Regions from separate parts of the Homo sapiens genome. Here regions 1, 3 and 4 are each linked to region 2. The links come from fine-mapping of genetic effects on gene expression. A gene starts in region 2. Each other region holds a variant in brackets. All regions are shown on one strand. Distances are from middle to middle. Region 1 overlaps ARMH3 (armadillo like helical domain containing 3). Region 2 holds the start of ARMH3 (armadillo like helical domain containing 3). Region 3 overlaps LOC105378458 (a long non-coding RNA gene). Region 4 overlaps LOC105378458 (a long non-coding RNA gene).

The links.
Region 1: its variant is fine-mapped to the expression of ARMH3 in subcutaneous fat (TwinsUK, PIP 0.90).
Region 3: its variant is fine-mapped to the expression of ARMH3 in whole blood (TOPMed, PIP above 0.99).
Region 4: its variant is fine-mapped to the expression of ARMH3 in whole blood (TOPMed, PIP above 0.99).

The regions. Positions count from the first base shown.
Region 1 is chr10:101,969,491-101,972,233 of GRCh38, forward strand. The region is part of intron 20 of ARMH3 (armadillo like helical domain containing 3); the gene reads right to left. Among named protein-coding and RNA genes, the nearest start is that of ARMH3, 85 kb to the right of the region's middle. The variant C/CA (reference allele first, on the strand shown) is at 1,605.
Region 2 is chr10:102,055,140-102,057,639 of GRCh38, forward strand. It overlaps ARMH3 (armadillo like helical domain containing 3), which reads right to left and starts at 1,034. Exons shown (of 26, transcript NM_024541.3): 1 at 946-1,034. RefSeq lists a silencer at 734-1,123.
Region 3 is chr10:101,759,571-101,762,313 of GRCh38, forward strand. All of the region lies in intron 2 of LOC105378458 (a long non-coding RNA gene), which reads right to left. Among named protein-coding and RNA genes, the nearest start is that of FGF8, 15 kb to the right of the region's middle. The variant T/C (reference allele first, on the strand shown) is at 1,604.
Region 4 is chr10:101,736,659-101,739,401 of GRCh38, forward strand. All of the region lies in intron 3 of LOC105378458 (a long non-coding RNA gene), which reads right to left. Among named protein-coding and RNA genes, the nearest start is that of LINC03046, 7.9 kb to the left of the region's middle. The variant G/A (reference allele first, on the strand shown) is at 1,289.

The DNA.
Region 1 (2,743 bases), 86 kb before region 2:
CAAGCTTCCAACGAAAGGCTCTCAATTGCCAGTCTTGAGATGTACCTAACCAAGAAGTCATAGGCCTCTGCCAGTAATAGGAGAGCCAGCTGGATCCAGAACGCTGTGATACTCCCTGGGTTTTCCATTTTTCCCAGTAGATATCTAAAAGGTCAGGCCATGTACAATTTCTTTTTCACAAAGCTGTGAATGCTTTGGATGTTACTTAGCACAGTGAAGCTGAACAGATTGTTCTGGGGGCTTAGGGGGCCTTTCTTCCTGCAGGCAAGCAAATGTTGCTTAGTGATCTGTGTCTGAGCATAGGAGTCAGGAACTCTAAGTTCTAATCATGACTCTGTTTAGCGTCTGGTTCCATGATCCTTAGCAAGTCACTTAACCCTTCTATATCTCTACTCCCTTCCCCAACAAATGGGGATAAAAATAACGACTTATCACCGGGATGTGGCAGAGTGAGAGGGTAACAACTGTGATCCATAGATAAATGTTGAATATAAAATGTCAGTATAAATCTGCCTTTAAAACAACCCATGTTTTCAGACGATGGAAAGTCATACTATTTAAATGCAGCCTGCCTCTCCAATGCCCCTTCTTCCTGCAGTGGAAGTAAAATAAGCTGACTCCATGAAGCTCTGTTCAAGTATTTCTCTCTCCAACAACTACACACTTCTCTCTGCACATCCTGCTCAATCTTTGCTTAATGGCTTAGAAACCATCAAAGTTTCCATTTTTACTTGGTTAAAAGCAATCCATGCACCTGTGGGTAAGGAAGAATGAGAAAAACAAAAGAAATTACTAACTACTCTCTCTCACATCAACAAATCAAATAAACTAAGGTGGATGGCTGGCCCTATCAAAGGTGATGATGTCAGCTCAACAGAAACATTAACAACATCCTACTGGGTTCTATTATTATTATTATTCGGCTCAAACACAACATTGTGCTGCTTTTGGAGAATGTTGATCCATCATTAATGAAAATCTTACATATCCATTCATCCATTTATTTGTTCATCCAAATGTTATCTGAGTTCCTATTAAAAAGCTAAGTAGGCCGGGTGCTGTGGCACATGCCTATAATCCCAACAATTTGGGAGGCCAAAGCAGGCAGATCACTTGAGTCCAGGACTTCAAGACCAGCCTGGGCAACATGATGAAACCCCATCTCTAAAAAAAAAAATACAAAAATAAGCCAGGCATGGTAGTACGCATCTGTAGTCCCAGCTACTTGGGCGGCTGAGGTGGGAGGATCCATTGGGCCCAGGAGGTCGCGACTACAATGAGCCATGATTGTGCCGCTGCACTCCAGCCTGGGCAAGACCCTGTCTCAAAAAATAAATAAATAGCCAAGCAGTCTGCTGGAGATGTAACAATGATTAAAAAACAGGCCCTGCCCTCCAGGAACTTTTTTGAGAGGAAATATAGATATTTAAACAAATCATTGTAAAAACATATGAAATTAGCTGGGGCATGGTGGCTTGCATCTATGGTCCCACCTGCTCAGGAGGCTGAGTTGGGAGGATCACTTGAGCCCAGGAGACAGAGGTTGCAGTGAGCTGAGACTGTGGCACTGCACTCCAGCCTGGGCAACAGAGTGAGACCGTCTC[C/CA]AAAAAAAAAAAAAAAAAAAAAAGCAAACATAGCAAAACAATGTGATACACTAAAATAGGGGCCCAATATGCTATAGAAAACACTCCAAAAATAAGACATAGTGAACAAAATGGTCTATAGCCTCAAGAAGTGCAAAGGAGATTGCTAACCTAAAGTTCCCAGTAGGAGCGCAGTGTGACTAGTAAATAAAGAAAAAATACTGGCCGGGCGCAGTGGCTCACACCTGTAATCCCAGCACTTTGGGAGACAGAGGAGGGCAGATCACCTAAGGTCAGAAATTTGAGGCCAGCTTGGCCAACATGGTAAAACTCCATCTTTACAAAAGTTAGCCAGGCATAATGGTGTGTGCCTTTAAGTCCCAGCTACTTGGGGCAGGAGCTGAGGTGGGAGGATTGTTTGAACCCGCAATCACACCACTGCTCTCCAGCTTAGGCAACAGAGTGAGACTCTTTCTCAAAAAAATAAAATAAAATAAAATAAAATAATTTACCTAGATACTAAGATTTCTGTGAGAACAGGATTAATTGGGAGGCTGTGGAACTTAAAATTAAGACAGAGGTTTTTGACACAAGGGGCTTCAGAGGATCCAGAAACTCTGTGAAACTATATGCAAAATATATATGTGCAAATGGACATTTTTTCTGAATACAAAGATGACTGTAGCTTTCATTCTATTCTCAAAAGTAAAGAACTATTTCAGTATGATCTTATCCCAAAACCCAGTTTTCTACCTCTATCAGTGGAGAGTTTTAAGATCTAATCTTTTACTCAGACTGGGAGATCTGGGTTGCCTAGACATCAGAGAAGAGCTTTCAAACTTTCTATATGTGGTGAAAAACAGTGATTGCTGAAAACAGAGCAATGCAGAGCAATAGAACTTTTTCCTTTCCATATTCTAGTTAAAATTAGCCTAAATATATTTTCATACATACTCAGATATCATGGTGACATGCATCATAGAAACAGACAGTGGCAGCAGGGAGTAGATCAGGGCTCGTATCTGTAAAACCAACTAGGAAAAGCTTATCAGGCAAGATTGAACCCCCAACTAATACAGCTGACTCCTCCTTGTCCATAAGATCACACCTGTAAATTCATTATGGGAATCTGGAGACCTCTGGCTACCTCCCCAATAATA
Region 2 (2,500 bases):
GGAGAAATCCCGTCTCTATCAAAAATATAAAATTAGCTGGGCGTGGTAGCGCAAGGCTGAGGCAGGAGAATCGCTTGAACCCCGGAGGCAGAGGTTGTGGTAAGCCGAGATCGGGCAACTGCACTCCAGACTGGGCGACAACAGCGAAACTCCATCTCAAAATAAATAAATAAATAAATAAATAAATAAAATAAAATAAAAAACTTTCTGGAGAGGAAGAACTGCGGAGGGTCGGATGATCCAGTGACATACATTTGGGTATGGCCCAAGTTTCTGCTTCCCCATTCGCCAGGGGCAGCACGCCTCAGCTTCTCCTTCTCCAGGGGACCAGGTTTCTCTCTACTTTTTCCTTCCCTATACCCTCCTGGGAACAGGTTCCTTTCCTGGGCTCTCGCCGAGTAACCCAAAGAAAACACAGTAGCTTCACTGATTCCGTGTGAAGAGTGGGTTAAAGCCTGTCAGAGCCTGGAGAGGGACAGGACTGGAGCCCTTCCGGGACACCTGAAGACTTCGCACAAACCCGCTTTCCTCTATCCCTGAGATTCTCAGAGGTGCCTTGCCCTACGCCCGCACCCCAGGACCAAGAACAGCAGGAGAGGAAGCTCTCGGGGCAGCTGGCGGGGTCAAAGGTCAGCACCTCGGAAGCCAGAAGGCCCCGCAGGGATGCGGGAGAGGGACGTGACCGGGACCGTGTGGTCCGAGGGACCGGCCGCTGGAAGAGCGAAGCCGTTTCTCTCTAGGCTCGGCCGCCCCCAGGCCCAGCCCTCCCCGGCATACGCAGCTTCAGCAGCCGTCCTCCCTCCCTCTCCCCTCGCGTCCTCGTCGTCCCCGCGGCCAGCGCAGGCCCCGCCCCCAGAACCGCCTCGGGGCCAAGGCCTAGTATGGCAGGACCCGCAGGGTTGGTCAGGTTCGAGGACCGGGCCGGGCCTGGCCGCCGCCGCTTACCGAGCCCGCGGCTCCTCCTCTACCACCCGCGCCGTTCCCGGGCCCGCTCGCTCTCGACGCCACCGACGCTGCCGCTGCTCCGGGCTCACGGGCGCGCTCCCGACCTCCCCGACCCTTCCCGTGTCCCCGCGCCCCGCCGGGTCCTAAAGCCCGGCGCGCAATGGGTTAGTCCACGCCCGCTTCCTGAGACCGGCTCAGACCACGATTCCCAGCAAGCATCGCAAAGACTACAACTCCCGAAAGGCATCGCGAGAAATAAATTCGCAGTGGACTTGTCTATTGAGGGCCTACTGGGTCGCAATAGCAGTTTTCCGAAACATGGCCGACTCTTTGACCTCAGCAATTTTACTTCTAGGAATACATGTATCCTCTAGAAATACTGGCGAAGTTTGGAAAGATATATTTTCCAAATGTGTATTACAACTTTGTACGTGAAAGATTGAAAACAAACTCATTCTTTCAACAAATACGTGTGTGCCTGATAAGTGCAAAGTAGCGTGTAAAGCTCTATTAACTTGGCCAGAAATCTATTTTCTTTTCTTTTCCTTTTTTTTTTTTTTGAGACAGGATCTTGCCCTTGCCCAGGCTGGAGTGCCGCAGTGGCACAATTACAGCTCAGTGCAGCCTCCACCTCCTAGGCTCAAGCAGTCCTCCTGCCTCTGCCTCTGGTAGCTGGGATTACAGGCACGTGCCACCACTCCCTGCCTCTGAGTCTTTGTTTTCTTTTTTTTTTTTTTTTTCGAGATGGTGTCTCACTCTATTGCCCAGGCTGGAGTGCAGTGGTGCGATCTCGGCTCACTGCAACCTCTGCCTCCCGGGTTCAAGAGAGTCTCCTGCCTCAGCCTCCCCAGTAGCTGGGATTACAGGAGTGTACCACCACGCCCGGCTAATTTTTGTATTTTTTAGTAGAGACAAGGTTTCACCATGTTGCCAGGCTGGTCTCAAGCTCCTGGCCTCAGGTGATCCACCCGCCTCTGCCTCCCAAAATGCTGGGATTACAGGCGTGAGCCACCGCACCCAGCCTGAGTCTCTGTTTTTTTATACACAAATGGAAGGTTTAAAAAGATGTGCTATAACAGCAAGAATACTATTAAAAAGAAAAAACAAGTAAAAAAAATAAAATAAGCCAGGCGCGGTGGCTCACACCTGTAATCCCAACACTTTGGAAGGCAAAGGCGGGTGGATCACCTGAGGTCAGGAGTTCGAGACCAGCCTGGCCAACATGGTGAAACCCCATCTCTACTAAAAATACAAAAAATGGCCGGGCGTGTTGGCAGTCCTCTGTAATCCCAGCTACTCGGGAGGCTGAGGCAGGAGAATCGCTTGAACCTGGGAGGCGAAGGTTGCAGTGAGCCAAGATCGCGCCATCGCACTCCAACCTGGGCGACAGAGCGAGACTCCGTCTCAAAACAAAAAAGAAGTGGAGAAGAGTTCTGTGGGCGGCAAGCCACCCAGGTGCCGAGTCAAGAGACCGAAGACACAAGCTGTTCCAGTATAATAAAGAAAATAATTAAAATAAGAATAGCTATATTAGAAATAGAATATAGATGTGATT
Region 3 (2,743 bases), 300 kb before region 2:
GGTCGGGGGAAGAGGGGAAGGGAGGGGACAGCTTGAGAGCTTGAGTGACTGCAGCCCTGAGGGCCTCACAGGGGATATAGGCCCTAGCCACAGGTGCACCAATTACTCTCCCCTCAAAGAAAGCCTGGGGTTCACTTCTCCCCCACCCCCGTTTTCCCACTCTGCTCAGCCCTGACCTTTCTGCAGAAGGCGGTGGCAGCTCCGCAGCACCAGTCCGCTGGCTGGTCGTTTGTCTTCAGGTTTCACAGCCTCCCTGAGGCTCCCAGTGCTTTGCAAGTTTTCCCTCCCTTTCCCAGCCACTTCCCAGTTAGCCTGGGAGCCTCTTAGTGGCAGCTCGGGTTTCATTCCTGGGAGCTTTGTTCCAAATGGAAGTTTCTGGTTGGGATAATCCCTGGGTGTGAGTGGTCAGTGCAGGAAGAGTCAGGAGCCTCTCTGGGAGGCAGTGGGAACAACCCCACTAGTCCAGGTGCTCTGAGAGGGAGCAGAGCTGGGCTCCTTGTCCTGGAAGCACCTTCCCATCGAGGCCCAGGGGCTGACCCTGGGCAGCCGGCCTGGAGCCCACCCATCTCTTCTCTGGTAGGTCCTGGCTATCATCCTCTCCTGGATGCCCAAGAGAGTTCTGAAGGGTTCAGACCCTTCATCTCCTTTACCACCTGCTGCAGTTGAGATACCAGGCACAAGAAGCTGAAGGGACCCCAATCCCTGAGGCATCCAAAGCAAATATTGTTTAAGTCTATTTTATAAAACAGGCTTCCATACAGGTTTTGCTCAGGAAAAAAGTTTCTGTTGCTAAAAAAAATTTTTAAGCAAATAATCTAATTCAAACCTTTTACTTTCCAGATGAGGAAATTAAGGTTCAGAAAAGACAAGTTTCCCGGAGGATCCTACAGCAATTCCATTCTCGTCTGTCTTCTCTGTGAAGGCGCTTGTGAGCCACGCAAGCACAGTGCCTGGTGCTAACCCACGTGTTACCTGCGCCATGTTGTGTAGTAGACTCAGGTTCACTACTCTGGGAAGCCCAATACATGGGCCAGCCTGAAGGCAGGGACCTTGCCACATCCACCCTGCTCTCTCCAGTAATTCAATACTCAGTGTGCATGGAATTCAACTGGGACTGAGCCAAGTGGAGCTGAACTCCAGCAGAACCAGCCCAGGGTCCTGTCTTCCACCAGTTTTCAGCTGCCTAAAAACCAGCCATGGCCAGCACACTCAGCATTCCTGCCCCCATCCCCTAAACCCCAGCGTCTTCACACAAACCCTGCTCTTCCTGTCTCAGCCTTCCCCACTCCTCATCAGGAAGGCCTGTCTAACCATGGCCATCTGCTACATGGGAGGCCTTAGGAGTCAGGGATCTATCCAACCTGTGCACCATTGCTTCCCAACACTCTACTGCCTGGCATGTAGGAAGTGCTCAGTAAACCCTTCGTGAATCAACGCAAGGCACTAGGGAAAGGAAAGCCTTCGCATTTGGCTAGAGGAAAGGTCAGAGCCTTGAATGTCAGCTGTGTTCTCAGTGCTTCTCTCTTGTTCTGTTTTTCCCAACTCCAGCAACTCAGGCTTGACTTTTCGCCAATTTGCCTGGGCTTATTTGGAGTGAGAGGGG[T/C]GGGAGGCAAAGCCAGGCCTGAGGGACAGAGAGGCAAGAACGTGCACACTGGCCCCCGGGATAAGCAGGGAAACCATCCCCTTGCAGCCACCACATCATCCGTCCATCTCAGTTCTCCCAGGCCTTCAGGGGCCGGGGCCTTTGGCAGCCACACCTGCTTGGATGAGTGGAAGGGATGGGGAGAGGCCAGCCAGTCTCGGTGTGCATGAGGGACCTTGCCCAGCCTCTTTCCCAGCCTCCTGGCTGCCTTAGGCCCTCGGCTGCCAGAGCTGTTTCCCCAGGGAAGCAGCCTCCTTACAGACTCTGCTCCTCGGTGGCTCTCTGATGATGCCACTGTGCAAACCTGGGCTCCCAGGGACTTGGCTCAGGTGGCCCACCCCGTCTCCCAGATTCCTTCCCGGCAGTAGCCACCATCACTGTTAGGAAGCATTGTTAAGGTACCCGCTGGACACTCGACACACTCATTTTAACTCAGTCCTGGCAACTCCTATGGTGGAGTGATTCCCTGTTGTGCAGGTGAGGAAGTGGGGGCTGGGAGAGGTGAGCTGACTTGCCCCGATTAAATGACCAGGCAGTGACAGAGCCAGGGTTCAAGCTCAGGGCTGCTGGACTCCAAAGCCCTTGCCCCTCACCCTCACACCAAGCCACTTCTGATTTCTGGCTGTCCCTGTGGCCATTCCTCTGACTTCCTTCTCTGACTCTGCTGAGGCCTGGAGGATGCCACAGCAGTGTCAGAGCAAATGCCAGGGGTGGGGGGGAGTGAAAACAAGGAAAATCCCCTTTGCTTTCCATTCCCTCTGTCTACCTACCCCGCTGGTCTGATGAAAGTGCCCAGATGGGGGCCTGCTTCCTGGGGCCGGGTTCTTGCACAGGGCCTGCCACCGATACCAGACTCTCTCATCCCTCACACACTCGTACACACTCATACCAGGGTTGCCCAGGCCAAAATAGCAACTTTAAACACCACCTGCTTAGGCTCTGACCGCCCCCCACACTCAGCACAAAGCTGTGGCTTTAGCCATTTGGTCACTCGGCTCACCTTGTCGTCAAGCTCTTTTTCCCAGAGCCCCATCTACCCATCACACCTCATTTAAGGACACCCCTAGCAGCCACCCTCCCTCCCTGGGCTGCTCTCATCCC
Region 4 (2,743 bases), 320 kb before region 2:
TGGGGCACCGTGAAGCATCAGATGGAAGGTTGTACTAATAACTCTCCTTCAAAGTCCTTTCCACCCCTGTGAGTCTGTGGCATGGGGTATTTTTCTTTTAAACAAAATCAAGAGAGCCAAAGACTCAGCAGGACCTAGATGCACAGGATGGGGGGACTAAAGCACAACAATGGCAACATCGCAGAGATTCCTTGTGACCCTCTTGCAGAAAGAGGAACAGCTGCCTCCTCTCAGGGCTTTGCTCTGGTTTACCCCATAGTGGGTGTCAAAGCAAGAACCTGGGGTCCTGAGGGAAGTTCAGACAAATCTGAGCTCTTACCTGTTCCCTAAACAAGTGCTTGCTGGGTTAAAGCCAGCACTGGTCCAAATCCTCAATCCAAATTGAAAACTTTGGCCCCTGACACGGGGTAGAAGACAGTGCATGCATTTAGGAGTCAATAAATTCCAATGTGAATTTTGTTATTCCTTTTTACAGAGTATGCAACCTTGGGTAAATTACTGGCCTTTTCTGTCTCTTTCTTTCTTTCTTTTTTTTTTTTTTTTTTTTTTTTTTGAGACGGAGTCTCGCTCTGCCTCCCAGGCTGGAGTGCAATGGCGAGATCTTGGCTCACTGCAACCTCCGCCTCTCAGGTTCAAGCATTTCTCCTGCCTCAGCCTCCTGAGTAGCTGGAATTACAGGTGCCCACAACCAGGCCCAGCTAATTTTTGTATTTTTAGTAGAGATGGGGTTTCACCATGTTGGTCAGACTGGTCTCGAGCTCCTGACCTCAGGTTCTCAGGTAATCCACCCACCTTGGCCTCCCAAAGTGCTGGGATTACAGGCGTGAGCCACCGCGCCCAACCTCATTACTGGACTTTTCTAAACCTCAGCTTCTTCATCTGTAAAAGGGAAATCATAATATCCTTATTTTTTTCTCTTTATTTATTTATTTATTTATTTGTTGCTGAGATGGAGTCTCGCTCTGTCGCCAAGCTGGAATGCAGTGGCACAATCTCAGCTCACTGCAACCTCTGCCTCCCGGGTTGAAGTGATTTTCCTGCCTCAGCCTCCTGAATAGCTGCAATTACAGGTATGCACTAGCACGCCTGGCTAATTTTTGTATTTTTAGTAGAGACGGGGATTCACCACGTATACCAGGCTGGTCTTGAACACCTGACCTCAGGTGATCCGCCCACTTTGGCCTCCCAAGGTGCTGGGATTACAGGCGTGAGCCACCGCCCCCGGCTTCTCTTTATTTTTTAAAAAGAGATGGCTCTGGGCATGGTGGCTCATGCCTGTAATTGCAGC[G/A]TTTTGGGAGGCTGAGGAGGGACGCCCACTTGAGACCAGCAGTTTGAGACCAGCCTGGGCAACATAGTGGGACCCTGTCTCTACAAAAAATACAAAAAAAAAAAAAGTCTTTTAAATGTCAGGTACAGTAGCTCATGCCTGTAATCCCAGCACTTTGGGAGGCTCAGGTGGGAGGATTGCTTGAGGCTAGGAGTTTAAAACTAGCCTGGGCAGGCCGGGCGGCGCGGTGGCTCACGCCTGTAATCCCAGCACTTTGGGAGGCCGAGGTGGGCAGATCACGAGGTCAGGAGATCGAGACCATCCTGGCTAACATGGTAAAACCCCGTCTCCACTAAAAATAAAAATTAGCTGGGCGTGGTGGCAGGCACCTGTAGTCCCAGCTACTCGGGAGGCTGAGGCGGGAGAATGACATGAACCTGGGAGGCGGAGCTTGCAGTGAGCTGAGATCGTACCACTGCACTCTGGCCTGGGCGACAGAGCAAGACTCCATCTCAAAATAAATAAATAAATAAATAAAACTAGCCTGGGCAACACAGCAAGATCACATCTCTAAAAAAAAAAAAAAAAAAAAAAGAAAAAGAAAAAGAAAAAAATTAGCTAGGTGTGGTTCACACACGTGTGGTCCCAGCTACTTGGGAAGCCAAGGTAGGAGGATTACATTGAGCCACGGTCACACCACTGCACTCCAGCCTGAGCAACAGAGCAAGACTCCATCTCTAAAAAGTGAGAGAGAGAAATGGGATCTCGCTCTGTTTCCCAGGCAAGTCATAGTGCACTGCAGCCTCCAACTCCTGGGCTCAAGGGATCCTCCCATCTTCCCCTCCTGAGTAACTGGGATTACAGATGTGCGCCACTGTGTCCAGCTCATAATATCCTTCCAAAAGGATTACTGCATAGATTCAATTCAATAATATATGTAAGAAGCCCAGTAGAGTACCTGGCATGTAACAGAGGCTCACTTTTAATGCCTGTTATACTTTTACAGAAAATCAAAGGGCAAAATGGAAATGTACCACAGCTTCCAGCATTAGACAGGCCTGGGTTTGAATCCTAACAACACTGGCTTTGGGCAAATCACTTCACCCACCTTGTACAGTTATTGTGAGGTGATTGAAATAATGCCTATAAATCACCTGGTATCTAGCCCATGTCTTACAGATGGCCACTGTTACAACCGACCATTTGCATCCGGGGCTACAGGGAAACCCCTCATCCCCAAGGGCAGCCTCTCTGGGGGCTAGTCCTTGGTCCCTGGACACAGGTTAGGATGGCTGGCTCTCAGGCTTCAGTGAGGCCTTTTCCAAAGGAGTGAATCGAGTCCTCACTTGGGATTTCCCATTTCCAAATATTCACCAGTTCCCCTGTCTCCAAATATTGCACAGAGGCCATCACTGATAGTGGCGTTAATGCCCAGAGGAACTGTTCCCAAAGCAGAGGGAGAATGGACACTGTGTG